Linked DNA regions of Homo sapiens. The protein of the gene in region 1 interacts with the protein of each later gene in a pairwise test. Each region holds a gene or a part of one and is shown in the gene's direction. Other genes may lie near its edges.

What was found.
Region 2: the proteins of STK16 (region 1) and MEOX2 interact in binary tests that used the Homo sapiens proteins (3 or more experiments, as listed by UniProt).
Region 3: the proteins of STK16 (region 1) and ZNF330 interact in binary tests that used the Homo sapiens proteins (3 or more experiments, as listed by UniProt).

What each region holds. Positions count from the first base shown.
Region 1 is NC_000002.12:219,240,393-219,249,491, forward strand, and holds the start of STK16 (serine/threonine-protein kinase 16), read left to right. Parts: upstream 1-5,086; 5' UTR 5,087-5,404; intron 5,405-5,503; 5' UTR 5,504-5,607; coding exon 5,608-5,693; intron 5,694-6,264; coding exon 6,265-6,484; intron 6,485-6,720; coding exon 6,721-6,854; intron 6,855-7,022; coding exon 7,023-7,143; intron 7,144-7,269; coding exon 7,270-7,365; intron 7,366-7,800; coding exon 7,801-7,922; intron 7,923-8,028; coding exon 8,029-8,167; 3' UTR 8,168-9,099. Other genes in the region: GLB1L (beta-galactosidase-1-like protein isoform 1 precursor), read right to left, coding at 2,122-2,182, 2,376-2,526, 2,756-2,922, 3,110-3,181. UniProt on the Homo sapiens protein: Membrane-associated protein kinase that phosphorylates on serine and threonine residues. In vitro substrates include DRG1, ENO1 and EIF4EBP1. Also autophosphorylates. May be involved in secretory vesicle trafficking or intracellular signaling.
Region 2 is NC_000007.14:15,675,525-15,684,065, reverse strand, and holds part of MEOX2 (homeobox protein MOX-2), read left to right. Parts: intron 1-2,085; exon of another isoform or gene 2,086-5,152; intron 5,153-6,418; exon of another isoform or gene 6,419-6,603; intron 6,604-7,905; exon of another isoform or gene 7,906-8,046; intron 8,047-8,541. UniProt on the Homo sapiens protein: Mesodermal transcription factor that plays a key role in somitogenesis and somitogenesis and limb muscle differentiation. Required during limb development for normal appendicular muscle formation and for the normal regulation of myogenic genes.
Region 3 is NC_000004.12:141,230,513-141,236,356, forward strand, and holds the end of ZNF330 (zinc finger protein 330), read left to right. Parts: intron 1-926; coding exon 927-973; intron 974-2,012; coding exon 2,013-2,130; intron 2,131-3,202; coding exon 3,203-3,477; 3' UTR 3,478-4,185; downstream 4,186-5,844.

The sequences.
Region 1 (9,099 bases):
TTGTATATTTGCACGCCAATGAAATTTGAACATAGGAAACCTTAAAATAGTGTTTCTTAAAAACAAATGGGCCGGGCGTGGCGGCTCACGCCTGTAATCCCAGCACTTTGGGAGGCGGAGGCAGGCAGATCACGAGGTCAAGAGATTGAGACCATCCTGGCCAACATGGTGAAACACTGTCTCTACTAAAAATACAAAAAAATTAGCTGGGCATGGTGGCGGGTGCCTGTAATCCCAGCTACTCAGGAGGCTGAGACAGGAGAATCGCTTGAACCCGGGAGGCAGAGGTTGCAGTGAGCCGAGACTGCACCACTGCACTCCAGCCTGGGCAACAAGAGCAAAACTCCATCTCAAAACAAACAAACAAAAATGGTGGTATATGGGGAGACTAAAATATAGAGGGGATGGCCGGGTGTGGTGGCTCACGCCTGTAATCCCAGCACTTTCTGAGGCCAAGGCAGGGGTGGATGACCTGAGGTCAGGAGTTTGAGACCCTCATGGCCAACATGGCAAAAACCTGTCTCTACTAAAAATACAAAAAATTAGCCGGGCAAGGTGGTAGGTGCCTGCAATCCCAATTACTCGGGAGGCTGAGGCAGGAGAATCACTTGAACCCAATCGGAGGTTGCAGTGAGCCAAGGTCACGTGACTGCACTCCAGCCTGGGCAACAGAGCAAGACTCCGTCTCAAAAAAAAATAACAATTATGCCGGGTGCGGCGGCTCACACCTGTAATCCCAGCACTTTGGGAGGCCAAGGCTGGCAGATCACGAGGTCAGGAGATCGAGACCATCCTGGCTAACACAGTGAAACCCCATCTCTACTAAAAATACAAAAAATAGCCGGGTGTGTTGGTGGGCACCTGTAGTCCCAGCTACTCAGGAGGCTGAGGCAGGAGAATGGCGTGAACCTGGGAGGTGGAGCTTGCAGTGAGCCGAGATTGCGCCACTGCACTCCAGCCTGGGTGATAGAGCGAGACTCCATCTCAAAAATAAAACAAAATAAAAATAATATATATATATGTGTGTGTGTGTGTGTGTGTGTGTGTGTGTATATATATATATATATATATATACATACATATATATGTATGTATAGAGAGAGCGAGAGAGAGACCAGGAAGGCCTCACCAAGGTGACTTCTGCAGGAGGCTTGTGATGAAGGAGCACCACATGCAAAGGCCTCAAAGCCCAAGGCCTGGTGGGTCTGAAGAACAGCAATGAGGCCACTGTGGCTGGAGCAGAGTGAACATGGGGGAGAAGAGCAATAATGTCGAGGAGGTGACTGGGGCCAATTGTGTAGGACCTACCACTTTAAGGAATTTATGGTTCATATTCTGAATGAGATGAGAACCTACTAGAGAGGTTTAAGCAGAGAAATGACAAGATCTGAGATGTATCTTTAAACTTATACTTGAACAGGATCACACTGGCTACTCTACTGAGAACAGATTGTATGGGGGAGAGGGCAAACAAGGGAAACCAGTTAGGAAGCTATAAAATAAGCCAGCTGAGAGAGATGGTTTGGACCAGGGTGGGGGCAATGGGGGTGATAAAAAGCACTTAAATTTAATGTTTGTCAAGATACAGCTGATAGGATTTTCTCTTTTTTGAGACAAAGTCTCTTCAATCTGTCACCCAGGCTGGAGTGTAGTTGTTCAATCTCGGCTCACTGCAACCTCTGACCCCCGGGCCCAAGTGATTCTCCTGCATCAGCCTCCCAAGTAGCTGGGATTACAGGTGCCCACCACCTCGCCCAGCCAATTTTTTGTATTTTTAGTAGAGATGGGATTTTGCCATGTTGGCCAGGTGGGTCTCAAACTCCTGACCTCAGGTCATGCACCCGCCTGGGCCTCTGAAAGTGCTGGGATCACAGGCATGAGCCACCGCGCCCAGCTGTTTTTTTTTTTTTTAATCAGTTTCTTCCACTATATTATAAGCTTTACGGCACAAGGATGGGGGTCTGTCTGGTCCCCCAGTTTCTAGCATCCTGCTGGGCATGAAGGAAACACTTGGTAAATGAATGATGACCTCCAATTTGGGAATGGTCTCTTCTGCTTTTGGCACCCAAATAGCCCATTTTACTTACTTGCTTCTGTGTTAAATCCTTTGTCTCAACTCACCTGGATCTGAGGTTCTTAGATGAATTTCAGGTTTTCGAAGCAACCAGGATGGGAGACCCCCCTGAGACAAACATAAAGAGAACAAAGAAGCATGTAGGTTTTGTTTTGGGGTGTGGTGGGGAAGCTAGGAAGGGAAGGAAGGAAGGGAAGGAATTGAATATAGTGCTGGAGATGGCCCTAGAGTGTGGGCAGATGGGAGTAGTCTAGGAACTGCACAAGGATAACTGGTTCTATCCCTTCTCCAGCTAACTCACCATCTCCCACTCTGCACAGATGTAAGGTCCTGGTCTCAGTATGACCAACAGGTTCGCTAGAGCTGCCTCATTCAGAAAGGCAATGAGGTCCCGGCTGCCATTAAAGTTATAGACCCCAGGCTGTGGCTCGTGGTAGTTCCAGGGCACATAACTGAGAAAGGAAGAGGTTAATAGGAACCAAGGTGAAGAGACGCCAGGGAGGCCTAACGGCTCAGGCCTTGCAGGGAATCTCCAGGAAGCGGTTGGAAGGAGGTCCTGGCCTGCCCTTTCCCACCCTTGGCCTAGGAGTCCTGGCAGTCTTCCTGTCCCGACCTTCTTTATAAGGGGGCGGTAGAAAAAGTAGATCCCATCCCTCCGCGGCTCTTGCGAGCACTTCTTACAACTGTATGGCGTTGAGGCCGCTCCATCGCATCTTCAAAAGCCGGTCGGCCCAAAGCACCCGCGGTACCCGAAAGTAGTGCAGGCTGCCAGACACATAGCGGAACGGGGCCCCGTCTAGGAGAAACCGGTCATGACCCCTATCCACTACGAACGACCGAGTGTCTGCCTATAAAGAGAAAGAGACGCTGCTCAGCAGACGCCTGGAGGGAGCGTCGAGGGTCAGCGCCTGCCAAGAGCGGAAGAGATGGAACTAGCCCTGCGGGTTGTTTGGTTGTTACTTTGGACTTTCTCTCATCCGCTGGATCTGATCCCGCTCACCGCACCCGGCAGGCTGGTTCACCGTCTCATCTTACCTGGGGCAGCAGTAGCGTCAGGCTGAGCGGCAGCAGCAGGGAACGAAGGCAGGACAGCTTCTTGGGAGCCATGGCGTTTACAGCGCTCCTCTAGTCTGAGACGGCGGACAGACCGTCACGTGTCGGATTCCTGGGAGGGAACCTCAGCGAGCAAGGGGGCGGAAACCACCTCAAGTTGCCAGGCGTTTAGCCTGGACTTCCTCTCCAGCCTGCAGCCACCCCCTTACTCTACTAGTTTGTAAAATTTCTACATCATGTTAAAGTGCAGTTCACGAACCAGCTTCATCGACATCACCTGGGAACTTGTTAGAAATGGAGAATCTGGCTGGGCACGATGGCTCACGCCTGTAATCCCAACACTTTGGGAGGCCGAGGCGGGTGGATCACTTGAGGTCAGGAGTTCAAGACCAGCTTGGCCAACAGGGCAAAACCCTGTCTCTACTAAAAATACAAAAATTAGCCGGGCCTGGTGGCACGCGCCTGTATTCCAAGCTACTCCGAGGGTGGGGGTGGGGGTGGGGGTGGGGGTGGGGGTAGGGGCTGAGGCAGGAGAATTGCTTGAACCCGGAAGGCGGAGGTTGCAGTGAACCGAGATCCTGCCACTGCACTCCAGCCTGGGCAACAGAGCGAGACTCTGTCTCAAAAAACACAAACAAACAAACAAAAGAAATGTAAAATCTCAGATCCTACCTCAGACCTATAGAATCAGAATTTGTATTTTAACAAGATTCCCAGGTGATCCTAGGCACCTTCAAAATTGAGAAGCATGGCTTTACTTGACTGGGCTCCCTGAGGACAGGGAGTGCCCTGTTCATCTCAAATCCTCAGCCTCTAGCACAGGGCCGGGTATATAGTAGGTTAAATCTGGATGAATCAATGTCATAACCAAAAGGCTAAAACAGGTTCAGAACCAGGGGAAACCATTGGAAAATCTTCAGGGTGATCCGGGGTGTGGAAGGGAGGAACCAGGTCACAAGAAGGACCTCTTTCCTGGAGAGTCCTGTTTCAGCAAAACAGCCATTCCCTCCTGGCCATTCCACCTTCTTTGGAAGTGCACCCCTCTCCAGCTTACCCCTGCCTGCCTCCGCAACAGATATTAAGGACAACTGCTTTGTGCCAAAGCTCGAAAATCTGTGAATTTCCGTTCCTTTTGCCTTTACAGTCTCAAGAATGGGATGTGAAGATCAGGGTAATAATAATTACGGTTTATTGACACGTACTGAAGGCTATGTGTCAGATATTGTATTAAACACTGTACATCTCATTTAATCTTCAACTCCATGAGGTAGATAATTATTTCCATTTTACAGAGGAGGAGAGGAAAGGACAGAAACATTAAGTAGCCTGTCCAAGGTCACACAACTACGTTAACGGAGCTGTCATTTGAACTAGTCAGTCTGGCCTCACAGTTAAGCTACTTAACCTTATGTACTATTATACCTATTTTACAGCTACCAAAAGTAAGGATCCGAGAGGTTAAGTAACTTGCCCGAGGTTACACAGCTAGCATGCTATTAACACTCAATTTAGAAACTGGAAGTCTGGTTCACAAGCCTGAGCTCTTAACCACTGAGACTAGGGGTAGTGGGATACAGGCCAGAGCCCAGAAGGTTGTACGGGATCAGGAGACCAGGCCACCAGACCCGCCCCTCACTGGATCCCCCTCCAGGCTGCAGTGTAGTTGGCCGCTTTCTGCCCCAGAGCGCCAGAGGTATGAAGCCTCCTACCTCCAACATTGGGAGATGGAGGTCCTGGGGGCCTCGGGCCGAGCCCGGCTTTGCTCCCCTTTGGCGTAGGTGCCTGCGTCTTGACCCCCACCGAAGGCCAAGTAGAGAACCCTCACCAGGGTCCTGGGACCCGTCCACCCCTACACCTAGCTAGCCCGGAGCCTCTCAGCTCCGCGTCCCCACATCCTCCGGATGCCCAGCGGTTGCTGAGATACCGCGGGCCGTTACGCCGGCGCGGACTGATGATGTCAGCACTGCTTCCGGTCGGTGGCGCTTCTCTCTGGCCCGAGCCAGGTCAGTCCGGCAGTGCAGATGGCCCATCCCGGGCTCTGGGCTCCTAGACCGGGGTGGGCCCTGCCAGGAGTGGGCCTGAGCCTCGCACGTCCTCTGAAACTACGCTATGCTCTGCTTTTGCGGCGCGATGGGCGTGGGAGCGGGGGCTGCCCAAAGATGGGCTGGGGTTGGAGGAAGTGGCCCGGTAGCCGCTGTGTGTCCTGAGGCCGTAAGGCGCCTGACCCCACCCCTGAAGCTGGCGACGGAGCAGGGCCTGTTTTCTCTACACTATAGTGTAGGTTCCAGAGACCTGGGCCTGAGCTCTCCGCATTGGTACTTCATGGGTCGTCTGGATTGTGCCGGACCTGTGACCCTGCCGTTGTTTTCTTTCCAGCATGATCCGCTGGGCCCCCAGCGCATCTCCTGGAAGAGCCCACTCACCCTGGACGAGCTCTTCGGTAGCCTCAGACCGTCCTTGAAGAGGATGACTGAGACATTATGGGCCACGCGCTGTGTGTCTGCTCTCGGGGAACTGTCATCATTGACAATAAGCGCTACCTCTTCATCCAGAAACTGGGGGAGGGGTGAGTGTTTGGAAGTCAGTTAACTAGTCCTCAAGTTTATGATCATTGAAGGACAGCGGTGTGCATATGCTTGGGGCACAAGGGTTTTATCCCTATCCCTGTCCTCTCTCACCTGACAGAACCTAGCTACACAGTATCAAGAAGGTGGATTCTGGAGCCAGGCCTGCTAAATCCACCTCGTGTGACCTTGATAAACCATGTTTTTTTCATCAGCTTAATGGAGATGATTATTATCCCTCACTGATGGAGTTGTGAGGATTAAATGAGATAATGTGTATAAAATGTCTCACCCAATGCGGGGTTGACAAGTACTTGATAAGTGTTGGCTATTATTTATTTAGCATCTGTCAAGTGCAGAGGTCTCTATTACGACCATAGGACCTCAAAGATTTCTATATCTCTGCTCCTGAGGAGCTCACGGTGTAATATTCTTCAGATTTCTCTTAGAGCCACATCTTGGGAAGGTTTCTGCTAAATGGGAAGGACACCCCACTCCCCACCAGGAAATTTCTCTAGGTCCAAGCCATGTGGGAGATGACCATGGCCCTTTATTGACCCCTTTGGCCCACAGTGGGTTCAGCTATGTGGACCTAGTGGAAGGGTTACATGATGGACACTTCTACGCCCTGAAGCGAATCCTGTGTCACGAGCAGCAGGACCGGGAGGAGGCCCAGCGAGAAGCCGACATGCATCGCCTCTTCAATCACCCCAACATCCTTCGCCTCGTGGCTTACTGTCTGAGGGAACGGGGTGCTAAGCATGAGGCCTGGCTGCTGCTACCATTCTTCAAGGTCAGAAAGACTCCTGGTTATGGAGGGGGTTGCAGCAGAGCCACCTACTCAAGGGCTGTGTGAGCAGTCCAGCATGTTAGGAAGCAGGGACCATGTCCTGGGTTTGGCCACTTTAGATTTTGAGTTTGAGGTGTGTATCATGAAAGGGCTGATAGGCTTTGACATAGGGAAGGGATCAGGCCTAAGGAGCAGAGGCTCCAAAAACATCTCCAACTGTAGGGAAACTTGTGTTGCAGAGAGGTACGCTGTGGAATGAGATAGAAAGGCTGAAGGACAAAGGCAACTTCCTGACCGAGGATCAAATCCTTTGGCTGCTGCTGGGGATCTGCAGAGGCCTTGAGGCCATTCATGCCAAGGGTTATGCCCACAGGTCAGTGGGAGGACCCTGTGTGCTTGCTGGGGCCCAGAGGAAGAGCCTCACCAGGAGACATGGGAGGTCTCTGTTCTCCCAAGAAACAGCCTGTATGATTCTTTTGCTTGCTGGGATTCCAGCCTTCCTGTCCAGAGATGCTCATAGGTCACTTCTACTTCTCTACAGAGACTTGAAGCCCACCAATATATTGCTTGGAGATGAGGGGCAGCCAGTTTTAATGGACTTGGGTTCCATGAATCAAGCATGCATCCATGTGGAGGGCTCCCGCCAGGCTCTGACCCTGCAGGTAAAAGAGTCTCCAGGTTCCTTTTCTCACCTGTTCCCCATTCCCACCCCTTCTGGTGCATGTCCCAGTTTGGTCACATGACCATGACCTGTGCCCCACTTTTGAGCTCTGGGATCACTGTTCCAGGACTGGGCAGCCCAGCGGTGCACCATCTCCTACCGAGCCCCAGAGCTCTTCTCTGTGCAGAGTCACTGTGTCATCGATGAGCGGACTGATGTCTGGGTGAGGAGCATGTGGGTGGGTATCTGGGTAGGGAGGGCTGTGGCTCTGTACCCACCGTGGAGTAGAGTAGGTTGTTGGTTTCTGTTGCATGGGGCGCCAGGAACCACAATATGTCCCCATCCACTTCAACTTCCTTCCTGGGAAATGTCACTGATACTGTACCCAGTTGTACCGGATGTGGTATAATCTGTGCCCCTGAACAAGGTGAGTACAGCTCAGTGTCAGTAGTGAAGGCACTGGCTAAGCAGGGGCTAAGCTAAACAGGGGCTGCGGAGGCCTCCAGCTGACTGGCAGTTTCTCTGGACCCTGGTGGTGCCATGTGGCTGAGGTCAGCGTATTCTTTTTAGCTTATGGAGTCTCCTTTTACCACAGAAGTAAAGGGAGAGATGTCACCTCCACTGGTCCCCTTCTAGGGACTAATCAAGTTATGCTCAGTCCCTAGGCTGCGTGCTATATGCCATGATGTTTGGGGAAGGCCCTTATGACATGGTGTTCCAAAAGGGTGACAGTGTGGCCCTTGCTGTGCAGAACCAACTCAGCATCCCACAAAGCCCCAGGTGAGTGAGCAACGAATAGGGCATCAAGTGTTTCAGACTCCCCCCTGGTATTAGCTGAGTTGACAGATAGGTGTCATCCGGTCACCCTGGGCTCCTCCCTCCACAGGCATTCTTCAGCATTGCGGCAGCTCCTGAACTCGATGATGACCGTGGACCCGCATCAGCGTCCTCACATTCCTCTCCTCCTCAGTCAGCTGGAGGCGCTTCAGCCCCCAGCTCCTGGCCAACATACTACCCAAATCTGAAAAAGCAGCATGTTGAGAAGATGGCCCCTTGTGCCTTGGAAAGAGGTTCCCATCCCTCATTGGAATCACCACCCATTCCATCCAGGACTTCTCTTACACTTGGGGGTAGCGGGGTCAGGACAATCATCTCAGTCCTGCATCTTTTCTTCTGCTTTCTTCCCTCCAAGAGCAAAACCTGGGCAAGGGGACTTACTGAGTGGGGGTGGGTGGGGGTTGGGAAAAGGGAAACTGGTGGGATATGGAACATGGCTCTGAGCAGGACTGTTGAGCTCACATAGTGTTCTGACTCCAAATCTGGGAGCAGGAGAATGTGTAAACAAGAATAAAGTGGAAGCAGGTTGGTGTAGATCTTAGTCTCAGTGTTCCTGGAGTGAGAGAAGAGGTGCAAGGGGCCCAAAGTCAGGTTGCCATTTCAGGCGAACTGCCTGGGAAGGAGGAATGGTGCAGAGTCGGCAATGGTGTGACTTCATTCTACAGGAGGTTGGTTAGCAGTGGACAGTTCTAGCTTGTCTTAGATCAAAACTTAAAGCTGCTTGGGCTCAAGCTGGCATCTGCCTGTGTCAAGAACTAGGGCCCCCTAAAAACACTCAACTAGTTCTTTCCTTCCTTCACTCCTGGGGTGAGTAGCTTAGTCAAAGCTGCCTAGCCGGTTTGCTAGGCAAGGGCCTCTGGGTGGAGACACCTGAGGAAGCTTTGAGACAGGTAGATTACAGGTCTCCCATCCTCAGCCTAGGGGCGAGGGGAGTGGAGGTGGCAGCGGCAGCTGTTTTGGCCTGTGTCTCCCTGATCGTTCAAGCTCATACATGGTTAATGATTAATGAGGCAGTGTGGTGTGGCAGTATCCAGCTGCCACTTCCTGCCTACTCTGCTGAGTAAACAGGGGCCCTGTCTTAGCTGGGCTTCAAACCTGTTCCCTAGGGAAGGGCTCTGTT
Region 2 (8,541 bases), on another chromosome or scaffold:
ACGGAATTCAATAACTGATTCCCTTAATTTATTTTAATAATTTTTTTAAAAAATGGAATAATTTAACAAAACTAATTTATCTCTCCCCCCCAACTTAGTGGGAAATAACCATTTAACAAAATTAAATTCATTTCTACATTTTGAAGCTGATAATGAGGGTACTGGAAAAACAAGCAAATATAAGTGTTTGTGTCAGCTACATAAATTATTAACAGATTAAAACTTCAGTGGAAAGTACAATTAGTCATCACCAAGGATAAAAATACTGGGGATTTAGAATGAGCTTTTCTTTCCTTTGATATGTTGAAGAAATATTGACTAAAAGGAAAATCACAATAGTTTCTGTTTAAATCTATGTACACTTATTGAAAATAAAATTTTATTTGCCAATTTCAGCTGAAGGTATATTTGTCAGATATTGAGATAGATTTAAATTAAAGATATCTTTCTCGTGTAACAATTGCATTAGGTGTTCCATAAATTATCTTCAAAGATATTTTATTTCATAGACATCTTGATCTAGCACAAACTAAAACAATATTGAAAATGATTATGATCCTGGTATGCTATTAATACGTATATCTCTCATTGCTTATAGCACATTTTAGTATTTCAATATTTCTAAAATATAAAATTGAAGTGATTTCGGAACTCCTGAAATTTAAAATTGTATTAGATAAAAATGTCATCCTATATAGTGAGATCATTTGTATTTTGTTAGGTAGTTTATAATTACTTTGCATTTATGGTTGAGAGAAAATTCAGTACATAAATCCAGGGTAAAGTCAGGACCAAAATTCTGTATCCCTGCATCTAATACTTAGACTGTATGTGTATGTGCTAATTCTAATTACCGTGTTAAATTCTAATAGAATTTTAAGCACCAGAAAGTATTGAAAAACAGCTTAAATATTTATAAACCTTACAATTTTATTCATAGTAACGATTTAAAACTATAATACGTAAGCTTCTCTAGCATATATTTTATGCACTTTCCCTCCACAAATGCACATGGACACACACATATGCAAACTCTAGCAGCTTCATGTTTTGGAAGCAAATATTTATGGACTTTAGGCTTCCTTTATGTAAGTTTATTGACAATTGAAAATAACCAAATTTAATAGAAAAACACACCATTATATTTTATATGTGTTAAACATTTTTGTAACTTTGAACCTGCTACGCTTTCCAGCATTATTAGCAAAGCCAACATCTGCCACGTCTTCAAAGGGACTCTTAAAAATCAAAACTTTACAACTGCTGAAAAAAATCACTACAAAGCAGGTGATTCTGAAAAATGTCTATAAATAGTGTGAATTGCTTGGCTTCAATTACATTTGGTTGCTCTTTGAGCAATCTAGTAGTAGGAATAAACTGCCCAGTTTTAGTTAAAATAACTAAAATTAATTCATTGATCGAACTTTAGCTTTTGTGCATGGTTATACAGTGTACATATCTAGATATTTTCTATTCAAATTTATGATACATATTTTATAAAAAATAGAAATTACATCAAAAAAGAAAAGAGCGATTTGGGGAGGTAGACTTTACTAGGTTTTGAATCATATTAGATTCTTGTAAAATTACAAATATTTTATTTATAGCTACTATGTCATAAAACCTTTGCTGTCAAATTATGTCTGTCTATATGCTTGACTATGCAGAATGACTAGCAAATATTACATTTAATAAGTTGGAACTTAAACTCAGAGTAATACCTTATCAACCTCATTCAGTATGATATTGTAATATTTCCAAGATATTTCAATCATTGTGTTTTCTGAAAGGAATAAATTAGTGTTATTATTCATTTCTGTGTTACTGGATTGTGGCTTTTCAGCATTTGCTTTAGAATTTAAAAAATAATATACTGGATCTTGAAGATTAAAGTGAAGTATTGAACAAATCAAATGGAGTACAAAAAAAAACTTCCATTCTTTATCTTGGACTGGTAGACTAATTTTAGGTGTGAACATTTAAAAATGGTAATCTGACATAAAAAATTCTAAGTATCATTGACCTACATGAGGGCTCTAAAATGTGATCTAAAATAATCACACTCAAGTTAAAAGCAACAATTCCTTTAGAATTAAAATGCTTTATTGTTGAACATTAGCAATGAATGGAAGGAAGAATGCAAATAAAAGTAGGAATAGTTTCCAATTCTGTGTAAATTTCTTCATTTATAGTTCATTTTAAAAGAAAAATCATAAATGCAAGGCATGGTATTGCACAAACTTTCACCGGGCTTAGAAATCCAGAACTTAGTATTTAAAGTTTTAATCTTTGTTTATGGTAATTATCAATAGAAACCTTTACAATGACATCTTATAAGCTGATCTTTACTAATAAACTGAAAAAACAGTACTTCAGTCATTACCCCATTCTCCCTCTGTGTTTCAAAACATAGACCGTTCATTATAACTCTGGAATTTAAGTTGTAATATTTATAATAAAATCTAAACATCCTAAGAACTTAATTTTAAGCAAAAATGAAATATCAGAAAATGTCAATCCTTTCTCTTAGATTCTGAGAAATTTGGGAGGTGAATTCCATATGTAATGAAATAATTACATTTTTTTTTGCACTTAAGAAATGTAAATCTATAGATGAATTAATAGCTGAATTATGTAAAACATCACCATATATAAGCCCACTACATGTACTTAGCCTGATAATGCTGCCTTGCTTGCGAAATTTTATTCATTTAGTGTTTTTATAATGGCAGCTTGACACACACAACCTAATATGAAGGTTTTTTAGATTTTAATTTCAAATGAGAAAAACCAATATAATACAGCAATATATTTTAGTTTTGAACTGTATTCACCTCAGGAATTTATTTCTAAATTTTCAGAGCAAATCTCTTTTCCAAGCACTGCTATGAGGGCTGCAAATATCTTTGAGCGATAAATACTAAGGATGCAGAAATATTAGAAAATAAATTACAGGTAGGAATTTCTTAAATAATATCTGTTGAATTAATAGTTGTGGATTATTTATCTCACCCAAATTTTCTTTATTTTTCTCACTTTTTTTTTTGATAAATGAAACATTTTGTGCAGGAAGATATATAAGCATTTCCCCCCTTGATTGTAATAATAAAAAGAGAAGGCTTAATTCTCAACTGGCCAGTTACATTGTATTTCCTGGCTTATAGTATTGGTAAATGATTTCAGTGGTTAAAATCAAAAGCAAAAAAATAAAATAAAACACAAACTAAGGCCAAAGTCCACAGATTAAAAATTGAAGTAGATGTGATTTATTTCCTATTTAGCATATTTAAGAAACAAGACACATTTTGTAGTCACAATTTGTTTCTACATATCATGTGCTTTAGATGTTAATATGGTTTACTGACATACATGTTTTGTAAAGATTGTAAATATAATGAGGCACTAACATTTTGCCTACTTTCCTTAGGATGCTCTCATGACTATTTCTTTTACTAGCGTGTTGAACTGAACCCCCAAGTAGAAAAGGAGTAACGGTGTAAAGTAAAGTTAGTTGCAAAACTCTCTACATTACTCCTAAATCACAGTCATCAGTGAGATTCAAAATCCCATTGGAGAAAACCTCGCAGAATATTTTATGTGTTTTAATGTAGTAAAACTTAGAATGGTCAAGAACATATAGGGCTCAGCCTACAATTTGCGTTAGAGGCAGAATTAATCTAAATCTGATGCCCATTTCTCTAACAGTTCTTCCCGTTTTACTTACATTATAAAAATATTGAATTTTTTAAAGAATGTTGTACTAGATAGTATTTTATGATACAAAATAATCAATAATGTATCTATTGATCCATTTGTGCTCATCTCAGATGTTGTTTTTATGTTTCAGAATAAGTATTTTCATTTAAAATCTCTTGACATTATTTATTACCAAATTAACAGAAAGTTACATGGTAAGTGTATGATCGAATGGGTTATTAATTTTCATGGGTCATGAGTGGGTTTTTAATTTTCCTCTATATTTGAAATTTTTGATATATAATTTCCGGAATAATAAGTAGCTCATTATTCCTGAAGCTTTCATTTATAATGTTACTTTGTGTACAGAAATATAATATTTCTAAATTTATATATGTTACTCACTACTAATTGTGCACTGTATTTTTAAATATTGGTTTTCACAGTGTTATGAAAATAATTTACATTTTTTTGGTTTCTTACATCACCATATGCACAAGAATGATCAGGTAGAATCCGTACTGTATCTATACATTTTTGGAAAGGGTTTGTATGAAAGATAGAAAAACCCTTTCAAAAATAATCCCTTGTTTTATCAATAGAATTAGAAATTAATAAACTGGATCATTAACTTGTATGATAATATTGTTATTTTATTTTTAAAATTTCCATTTATTTAAATGTTTAATAATTCTAAAATGTTTGTGTACCTTGATGACAATTCTTATGTCCTTACAATGTGTACTTTTATTGCAAATATAACATATTTTTACTAGGTAGTAACTCAGTGGTAAAAACTTTAGGGTACTGATTATAGCTCTAAATTCAAAAGCTGTTGCTCTTCAAAATTTTGTAGAATCAATTCAATGTGAATGTTTCAAATGTATTTAAGTATTCTGCTGTTTGTGTTCATAAGCTTTCTTTCTAAGATGTTAGACGTATGTTTCTTAAAGCTTGCATAGGCTACATTGATTAAAATTATGATTATAAGCTGCTTACTTTCATAGTTTTTTGTTTTTATTGTAGTCTAGTAGAGAGGACAATGGCAAGGAAAGGATAAAAGGGAGGGTGCTGAATTAACTAGGACATGGAAGCTATACTTAAAACACACGTTAAAAGAAGGCGTTTACTTTATATATGTATATACATATATAGGTATATGCACACTCACACCCACACATATATATGCATGCATTACTGTAACTCCAAATTTAATTTCCTGATAATAGTAAATCTGAATTAGAGCATCCTTATTAAATGCATAATATGATTATAAATGTTCCAATTACAAAATTAAATATTAAGCTTGAAGCATATATAGTTTTGTGAAGAGTCCAGCAGGCTTAAGCTGGCAATCAATGATAGTTATAAAAGTCCCTGCAGTTTTTGTTTTCTTTTGTTTTTCCTCTTTATTTAGCTCATTATTCTTCACACACTTCAAGAGAATCCCATAATGCTACAAGGAAAAAACAAATTCGCAGTTATCTTACGTGACTGTGGGCAAGAAAATGACTAAGGTGAAATCATCTGTCAGGCTCCGCAAAACCTAGAGGAGGGTCCAGCTTAGGTTGGCAGATGCCAGTAGAATTTTAAAGGCCTAGAATTTTACTCTTTGAAAATATAGCCTTAAATTTTTGCCAGAAATGACACCCAAATGAAAACTTATTTTTGCAAAGTGATAGTTATTTGCAAATGCAGTAGTGAAATATATTCAGAGTCTGTTGAGGTAGCTTGTCCACTGTCTGGACTGCACAGTAAACATTTGGATGGTTATTCTTAGCCACCCAAAAAACTAGCAAACTAAACTGAGGTGTATTCTTATTAGTTGAAAAGATTAAATGGGCATGCCTCTTATCAAATTAACAATGAATGCAAAGCAAATTTTGCAAATCATTGATTTATGTTGGTAGGTAACACAAACAGGAAACTATTCAGAAAAATAAATATGTGTTATCCGAAACGTAATGGGGACTAGCTTGGTTTTGTAGAACAACAGCAATTTAGCAAATAACTTTCACATTTAAAGAACCATATAAATAATGCTTTAGCACTCACTGCATAGGTTGGAATCAAGTGATGTCTTATTTAATATTATTCAAAGATAAAATGAGGTCTTAGTATGTGTAGTGCCTTTAACAATTAAAATTTTCTCACCTATAGGCTATGCTTACGTGGGAATTTCTTTTTCTTATTTGAAGTATAAACAGATCTGGATGCATTAAACTAGACAGAATGTAGATGTAAAAATGATTGAGACATATTAAAATGACAGGAAAGTCAGAGTTTAGGCATCCCTATTTGGAGGCTTGCTGCCACCCATGTTTCTAAGATTACAGTCTTGTGAATGTCCACACTCAAAATTCAGGGAATTATAAATAATTTTTCCTCCAGAACTATTCTTTGCTCCTGGAAGTAGAGCTGTATAATTTATTTTCTAGAATACCCAGATGTTTAGGAAAGTATAAGTAAGTGGCAACACTTTTGCATATTTAGCCATTAGTTGATAAATCATAAAAGATTTATCCTATTTCTTAATTATCATATTAGACAAGGAAATAGATGTCACACTCAAAGGGATAATTGAAGAGAGTTTGATGATGGCAATTTGATGGTGAGTAGAATGTAGGGAAACCACAGGAAATGATGAATCCCCCAGGGTCTGTCCACAGTTGGAATATATTAGCACCCCTAACCTGAGAGGGTAAATGCAGGGACCTCTTACCAGAATCCAATGAGCGCAACAGGACAGAAGCCTTCTGGAAAAGTTGGGACCTCAGATGGAGGATTGCAGCTCATGTCGAATATCATCCAGTAACCTGTCTTCATGTCCTCCAATCTTCTTTTGTTGCTTCCATTGATCAAACACTATCCGAAGCCAGAACCCCGGAGGGTTAGGTGGATGCAACCCTAAGAGTCAACCGAAGAAGAAATGAGGCAAGCATATCTGGGAGAACACAATAGTTAGGGCTAAACCCCCGCTGTGTCTCTTACTATTGTCACCTCTTGGCCACAAATTTAACTTTTCTCTACCATCGTTTCTGAAAAGGAAATTGAGTTAATATACACAAAGCAATTAGAACAATGTCTGGCTTAGTAAAGTGTCAGTTATTATTTTTATCATCTATCAATGAATGTACAATTATGTAATGCATATGCACCATCTGAAAATAATCTATTTTATGCTACCTGTTTGCATTTTATTACAAATACTGCTATAGGAAATGTAACTTGCCTAAGTAATTACTAAAGATTTAAAATAATCATTGTCCTTAGAATTGTAAACGGCATGAAATTTCCCTGAAATGTAAGGTGAATTCTAGCCAAGTTATGTAAGAGGCTCAAGTTGCCTTTCCCACCCTTAAGATTTCCATTCCACAGCCTCTTTTACTTGGACCTCTCCTAACTTCCTCTTCTCTTGGGTCTCCTGCTACTTCTCCATTGAAAAGCTGTTTTCAGGAAGAGTGCATATTGAGCAAAATAAAGAATAAAATGAGGACTCTTTTTTTTTTTTTGAGACCGAGTTTTGTTCTGTTGCCCAGGCTGGAGTGCAGTGGCGCAATCTTGACTCACTGCAACCTCTGCTGTCCGGGTTCAAGTGATTCTCCTGCCTCAGCCTCCTGAGTAGCTGGGACTACAGGCGCCCGCTAATTTTTATATTTTTAGTAGAGACGCGGTTTCACCATGTTGGCCAGGCTGGTCTCGAACTACCTACCTCAAGTGATCTGCCCACCTCGGCCTCTCAAAGTGCTGGGATTACAGGTGTGAGCCACCGCGCCCGGCCAGAACTTAACTTTTTAAAAGGAGTGTACAGAGGGGCAGGGCATTTAGTCAAGAGGAAACAGAATTTAAATAAAAGGAATTCAAATATGACAATGAAATTTTGGGTCTCTGTTTTAGCTGTTAACTAGGAGGGTGGGAATGACATTTTCCTGCTATGTTAGAAACTTTATTGCAGAGAGAATTTTCTTATTGTTGCTCTGTTATTTTTAGCAGTTCCAGTTGCAGACCCTTAGGAATGGCAAATGTGCAAATATTACTAAAAGCTGAAAACATGTATGTCCCACACAAAATGCATGAACAGAATTTTATTTTGGTGATATAATTTCTTTTTACAAAGAACATATTTTAATTATTTGTTTGTTCACATTTGCATATTTAATACGTTATTGAGAAATATCACTTAGATAGAGATAAAAGAGAACAACAAACCCCTGGAATTGCAAGTCCTGGGTGGTTGACTGCGTTGACTCAGTTTAGTCACCTCTCCCACATCCATAAGGCAGTGTGCAGAATTCAGACATGACTTCAGCGAAATTTTAAATGATCATATATGCGAGACTTCTACAGTGCCTTTTGAATAAATAATAGAATCAAGCATTATATTAAAATCACAAATGCAGAGTTAACTTTTTAAGCATTTTCAGATCCATAGCAATTTGATCCCTAAAACAAGAGAAGTTTAAAGGAACAGAGAGTGTTTCTCTGTTAGATAATAGAAGAACTGGGAGGATGTAGGTAGAAGAGTACAGGAAGAAGAGCAAAATATTAAATGTCCGATAATACACAGCAGGGACAAGAAGGGTCCAACGGCATCAACCAGTGCGTTGACTCTTTGATTTTAGAGGAGGCTTGATTTGTCAAAGTTTTCTTAATGAATTGTAACCTGTAATATTTAAACAGATGATTAGAATCAAAATAATCAAGACACTAGAAGAGCCTCAAGGCACTACCCAGTTCAATGAATGTATTTCCTAGATGAGGGAATGTGCCCAGAGAAGTTAAGTAATGTCTGTCCATTCAGCCAAGTAGTGGCAGCTGAGCTTCCATATCCTGACTTCAGCCTAG
Region 3 (5,844 bases), on another chromosome or scaffold:
GCATTGCAGGACTTACACCTTTCGTGGTTCAGAGTACCACATGTCATTTTTACCTTCAAATTATTATAAAAAACCAAACCTCACCCTTCCTTCCCATTTCCAAATGCCCTCCCGTAAGAGATACCACCCTGTTTGTTTCTGCTAGTTGGTTCTAGTGATTCTTAGACAGGACTGTATATCAAAAATACCTGTGGAGGTTTTAAAAATAATGTAGATGTCCAGGCCTCATCCCTGGAGATTCTATCTTTTAAGTCCGTGGTGGGTGCCAGGCACCTGTATTTAACCTATACACAAAATTCTCACGTATTTTCCAGTTGAGAGCCAGCATTGCTGACTGGGTAATAGTATCATCTTTACACATAGTTTTTTTCTTGGAAGGTTCATTGAAATGAGACACCATATAAAACAATAGCATGTGGTACTTGGCATTTAAAAAGCCCTTTTTAAATAGTAGTTACTATTATAGGAAAAAGACCGAAATTCCCCAGGTATTCTCTTCCTTTAATTTGGTTCTTGTTCTGGTATGAAATCCTAATTATTATACTTATTTATAAATTTAAAGTAGATAAGTCATCTCTGTGATATACATACAACATACATACTACACACACATAGACACACAATGTGTATGCATGTGTATATAATTCTTGCAATATTTATATATAAAATTCTCAGATTAAAAGAGCATCTCGAAGTATATAGCATTTTTGAGCCTTTCGTCGCCTTTTGCAGAATGTATAATAATAAATTTAATTATTTTATTTGCAGCATGGGAGCTTTGTGTGTTTTATAGCATTTGAACCCAAAAGACAGGCAGCTGTCTATAAGGCTATATTCCATTGCAAGCTTTTAGTGATTTGATAAAAGACAAAAGAAAATTCTAAGAACCAAATAACGGGATTTTAAAATTAATCTATTTCCCACAGGTGTTTCATGCAATCGGCTTGGTCAGCACTCATGTCTCCGTTGTAAGGTATACCAATGCGTTTTTTTCTTTTTAGATTTTGTTTTTAATCTCTATACCCCTCCACCAGTCCTTGGCTTATATGCAGCTATAATTAATTTATAAGGGACCTTAAAATTATGTAGTCTAATTCTTTTATTTTTGAGACTGTGGAATTGAAGTTGAGAAAGCTTACATGACTTTCCAATGGTCATCCAGTCACCTTTTAGTAGAGCTGTGGCTAGTGCACATTTCTCTGGAATCCTGGCTCTGTGTTTTTAGTGGAGAACATTCTGACCAAGATGATGAGAGTCTATTTTAATTAATGTCAAAATATACCTGCTTAGAAGAGTTTGGGTAAAGATTTCCAAATTTTTCTGTGTCCTTAGGCCTAGTCTCTAGCATTCGTTCGTCAAAGATTACTAAACAGATGCAGCCAATGCCCTTCCTCTCAGAAGCGTTTCTCTAGTTCTTATATTCCTAACCCTATGTCTTATTTATCTTCCAACTCTGTTCTAGTTTTACCAAATGGTGTTCAGGCATTATCTGTGTTTTCTTTGTCTGGAATACTTTTCCATCTTGGCTTACCCTATTGCCCTCCCATTCTTCATATGGCTATTAAGACTTCGTGTCTCTAAGATGCCTTTCCCAAATCCCATGTCTGCTTTAGTGCCCTTCCCTCTGCACTTCCCGTTCAGTGCTTAGTGTCTTGTAATTGCCTTTTCACTGTCTCCATCCCTAGTTAGACCATACACTGTGTGAGAGTAAATAGGCTGTTCACCATTATTTCATTTCATCAGGGACCTTATGAGTACTGAAATATTTGTGAACAGCTAAATGTACTTACATGTCATACTCAATATAGTCTGCCTTTTGTTAGATCATTGTTCAGAAGGGTCCTGACAAAAACCATTTCTGTTAAGAAAATGAAATGAGAAGTGTGACTGCTCCCAACAAAATTGTTAATCTCACTGCCTTAATAAAGCTATATCTTTAAAACACTGAATACTGTCTTTTTGTATATTTTTACATTTTTATTTATTTACTTTATTTTGCTTCTCCTATACAGGCTTGTTTCTGTGATGATCATACAAGGAGCAAAGTGTTTAAGCAAGAAAAAGGAAAACAGCCTCCTTGTCCTAAATGTGGGCATGAAACTCAGGAGACTAAGGACCTTAGCATGTCAAGTAAGGCCCTTAAGATACTAAGGAAGTGATTTTTGCTTTCATACTTAGACAAAGTTTATCTTTTTTTTTTTTGGTCTATTTTTCTTATTGCCTCTTCTTATTTGAAAAGATGAATGTGTTCTTTTAAGCAAGTGGAATTTTACAGCTTAGGAAAATATGTGGGTAAAGTTTTTCAGTTTTACTTAAATAGACCAATATTCATTTTGATATTTGGTATTTGCCTTAGTTAATGACAGCAAATACTGAAATTTAAGATAAAGAGTGATTTTTTTTTATTTTTGTTGAGTCTTCCTTGTTAAATAGTTGAGTAGCTATAATTCCTTAATATTAAAGTGGTGGTAATTTTAAGTACCTAGAAGTCAAATTCACTCTGAAGCTATCTTAGGTGTGTGATATTTGAGCACCTATGTTTATTTATGTAATATAGCACTACTATAGGAAATTATTTTATGGTTTTTATGTAACTTTTTTTGTGAAGGAATAAGCATGCTTATAGTAATGCAGCTCGCAATTTTGTTAAAGAGAAGTTTGACTCTTAACCAAACATATCAGAATGGAACCATAATTCTAAGTGACTGACTGCTTTGTTTAATCACAGATGTAGTTGCATGGTGAGGTGAGACTGATGATTTTGCTGATCTTCTGCACTGAACTTTGTGTCACTATTAAGGCAGAAGAAATGACAGGCTTTGTTTTTAAGGGCATCTGCATTGTAAAATAGCTGTCTTAAGAAAAATGTACTGATACGAAATCAGCTGTATTCTGTGATTTATGTGATTTGAAAATAAACTGTCAGTGGCCAAACGGAAGGTATTTTTGTTTTAAACATGCCTTAATACCTTTGGAGTGGTCTGTTGGTCTAATTTGTTTTCTAGATTTAATGAAATTACACTGTAATTTTTATTTTTTATGGTGTTGTATATAGACTCAGGTGAAAAAATTAGGAAAATGTGACCTATTTTTTCATTTGGGATTGAAGCAGCCAATGAAATCCATGAAATTTTATAGAGGAAGATGAGAATGTAGAGAACTGGAACTAACAAAATGCCTTGTACTTGTCTGTCTTCTATAGCACGCTCCCTGAAATTTGGCAGGCAGACTGGAGGTGAAGAGGGAGATGGAGCTTCTGGGTATGATGCTTATTGGAAGAACCTTTCATCTGATAAGTATGGTGATACCAGCTACCACGATGAGGAGGAGGATGAGTATGAAGCAGAGGATGATGAAGAGGAAGAAGATGAAGGCAGAAAGGATTCAGATACTGAGTCATCAGATTTGTTTACTAATTTGAATTTAGGAAGGACCTATGCTAGTGGCTATGCTCACTATGAGGAACAAGAGAACTAGGGGAGCTGCTCTGGTGGCCGTGTGTGAGAGGAGCAGGAGTGAGTGTGTGTGCTTGATGAATTGTGTGTGGTTGTTCAAAAGTACCTTAGCCACTTAGCCTTGTGCAGAAGACTAGTTACACTTAATGGGCCAAGCAATAGGGTGTAGCGTTTTTATAGAACTGATAATCAGGCTTATGGCATAAGAAAAATGAGTTTCAAATTTAAGATGTTTATTGATCGAAGCAATTGAAGTATCATGGATTGGATTGTTACTGATTTCAGTAAAGTATGTTTTGCCAATTAGATACATATATACAAGATAAAGGAATAGGATGGTAATATATTTGTTTGAAATTAAATTACTGTTTTTATTAAAAAATACTGCTTCATTGGGCTGATTTTGTAAAATGTAATGAGTAAAATGAATTACTGTATTTTTCCTTTTATGTCCACAGAATGAGAGTCATATGTTGTTATATTCTAAATTTTCATTAAATATTCATGTCACCTTGAGTTGTCATGATAAGTATGTTTTAGTATTTGACTTATTCTTCTCTTTCTTCACAATGTATGTCCTCAGTGGTACCTATTATTGATGCCTTAAATGTATTGATAAGGTGACTAGTTAGCCATTTTTCAGAGATACAGTATCAGAAATAGTATTATTACAGAAGCTTTACCCAGGACATTTTATTTCTCTTTGAATAAATCTATTATTTCACTTAAATACTTTTGACATTATATTTAATTTTTTGTTCTGTATTTTCAGTTTGTTTTGGAAAGCATTCTAATTTTTTTACAAACTGCTTCAGTTTTCACACATATGGAAATAGGTAATAGAGACTGTGTGGTATACACTTAAAGATAAGCAGCCCAGACCCCATCATTGATAGGTGGAGGACAGTCCTGTCACAAGTCCCAGTTGTTACAACTTAACACTGGCATTTAATAGGGATTGGGTAGTTGTACAAGGAGAGACAATATCTGATTGCCTCACATTTTAGATGTATGGAGAAAATTGTAGCTATGAGGATAACAGGGTTGAATGGCCATTGTTAAGCCATTTTTGTTCTATAGAAGCATACTTAACAGCCAAGGACAATAACAGGCAATGGAAAGCCAGGTGTCAAAGTTAGAGGGCCTCTGGTGGCATGTGAAAAAGCTTTTCACCTTTTGCAGTAGGACGGCTTGAAAAAACTGAGGAGCAAGCCCGAGACTTAATAGTTTCAAAGGATAAAATTTAAAGACAGTTGCCAGCCAAGGCAAGTCTATTATGCCAGCATCGGCAAACTGCTTGGGAAAACCTGTGACCCTGACAAATTAGATGGAGACATCTGAATCGATGGTGCTGGAGATTTTTACTCCCCAGACTCCTGCATTTCTGAGTTTGCAGTCATAGCCCACCCCTCCATGTTAAGGGCAAGCACTCCCCACTTCATTCTCAGGCTGGATGACAATGCAGAGGCTTCTTTCCTCGGGAAACATGCTCTCTTCAAGACTTGCCCTATCTCTAGGCCATTATAGTTAGTATCTCCAGGCCTAAAATTAGGGTTAAGTGACGATAAAGTTAAGCAAAACTCAGTTGAGGTGCTGGAACTGAAGTGGGAGGAAACAAGACTATGCCCCAAAAGAACTGCAAGAATTACGAAGAGTTGGAGGAATATGCTTGAGATTGGAATCAGTGCTTAAGAGGGTCAAAACATAAAATTAGGGAGGAGTTTGATGGCAGCCCTGACACTGGATCTTTGGATTGCTAAGAGTTAAATTAGAGGGTTTTAATAACCTGGCTAGGATCCTGTGAGATGGTGCGAACTCATTACCAGGATGGCTTCTTGAAATATGGAAAAAGTAATGGTCCTTTCTGAGCAAAGTCGAAACACTGGGATTACTGTGACATGGTGGAAGAATGGATTTAAATGGTTAAGGGAATTGGGTATGCTGGAATGGATTGGAAGATGAGATGATTATGTTCCATGGGAAGGCTCAGTGGACACACCATTTAACAGTGCCATAGAAATGTGCACTGATGATGGGGTATAAGCATCTCTAAAAACGTGTGGTAGCTCATGGTAGGCCATACAGACAGTAGGAAAAGAAAACAGAGTTCAGCTTGCTGATGGCAATGTATGACAAGATTCTGAAAAATAGTGGCTAAAGTGGCAGTGCCCAACTGCCAAAAGTCAGGGGGTTACAGTTAATGAGAAAGTGAGAGTGGTAGTCAAGGGGTCCTAACCTGCAAAGAGTTATGGAGAAGGCTAATGTAACACAGCACTTTAGGGACAAAACAAATGGGTAGCCAACAAGAATACTACTCAGTTTTTCCCATTAGATAAAATTAAGGATGGATTACATGGAAGCTAATGGTAGTCACCCCAATAAAAATAAA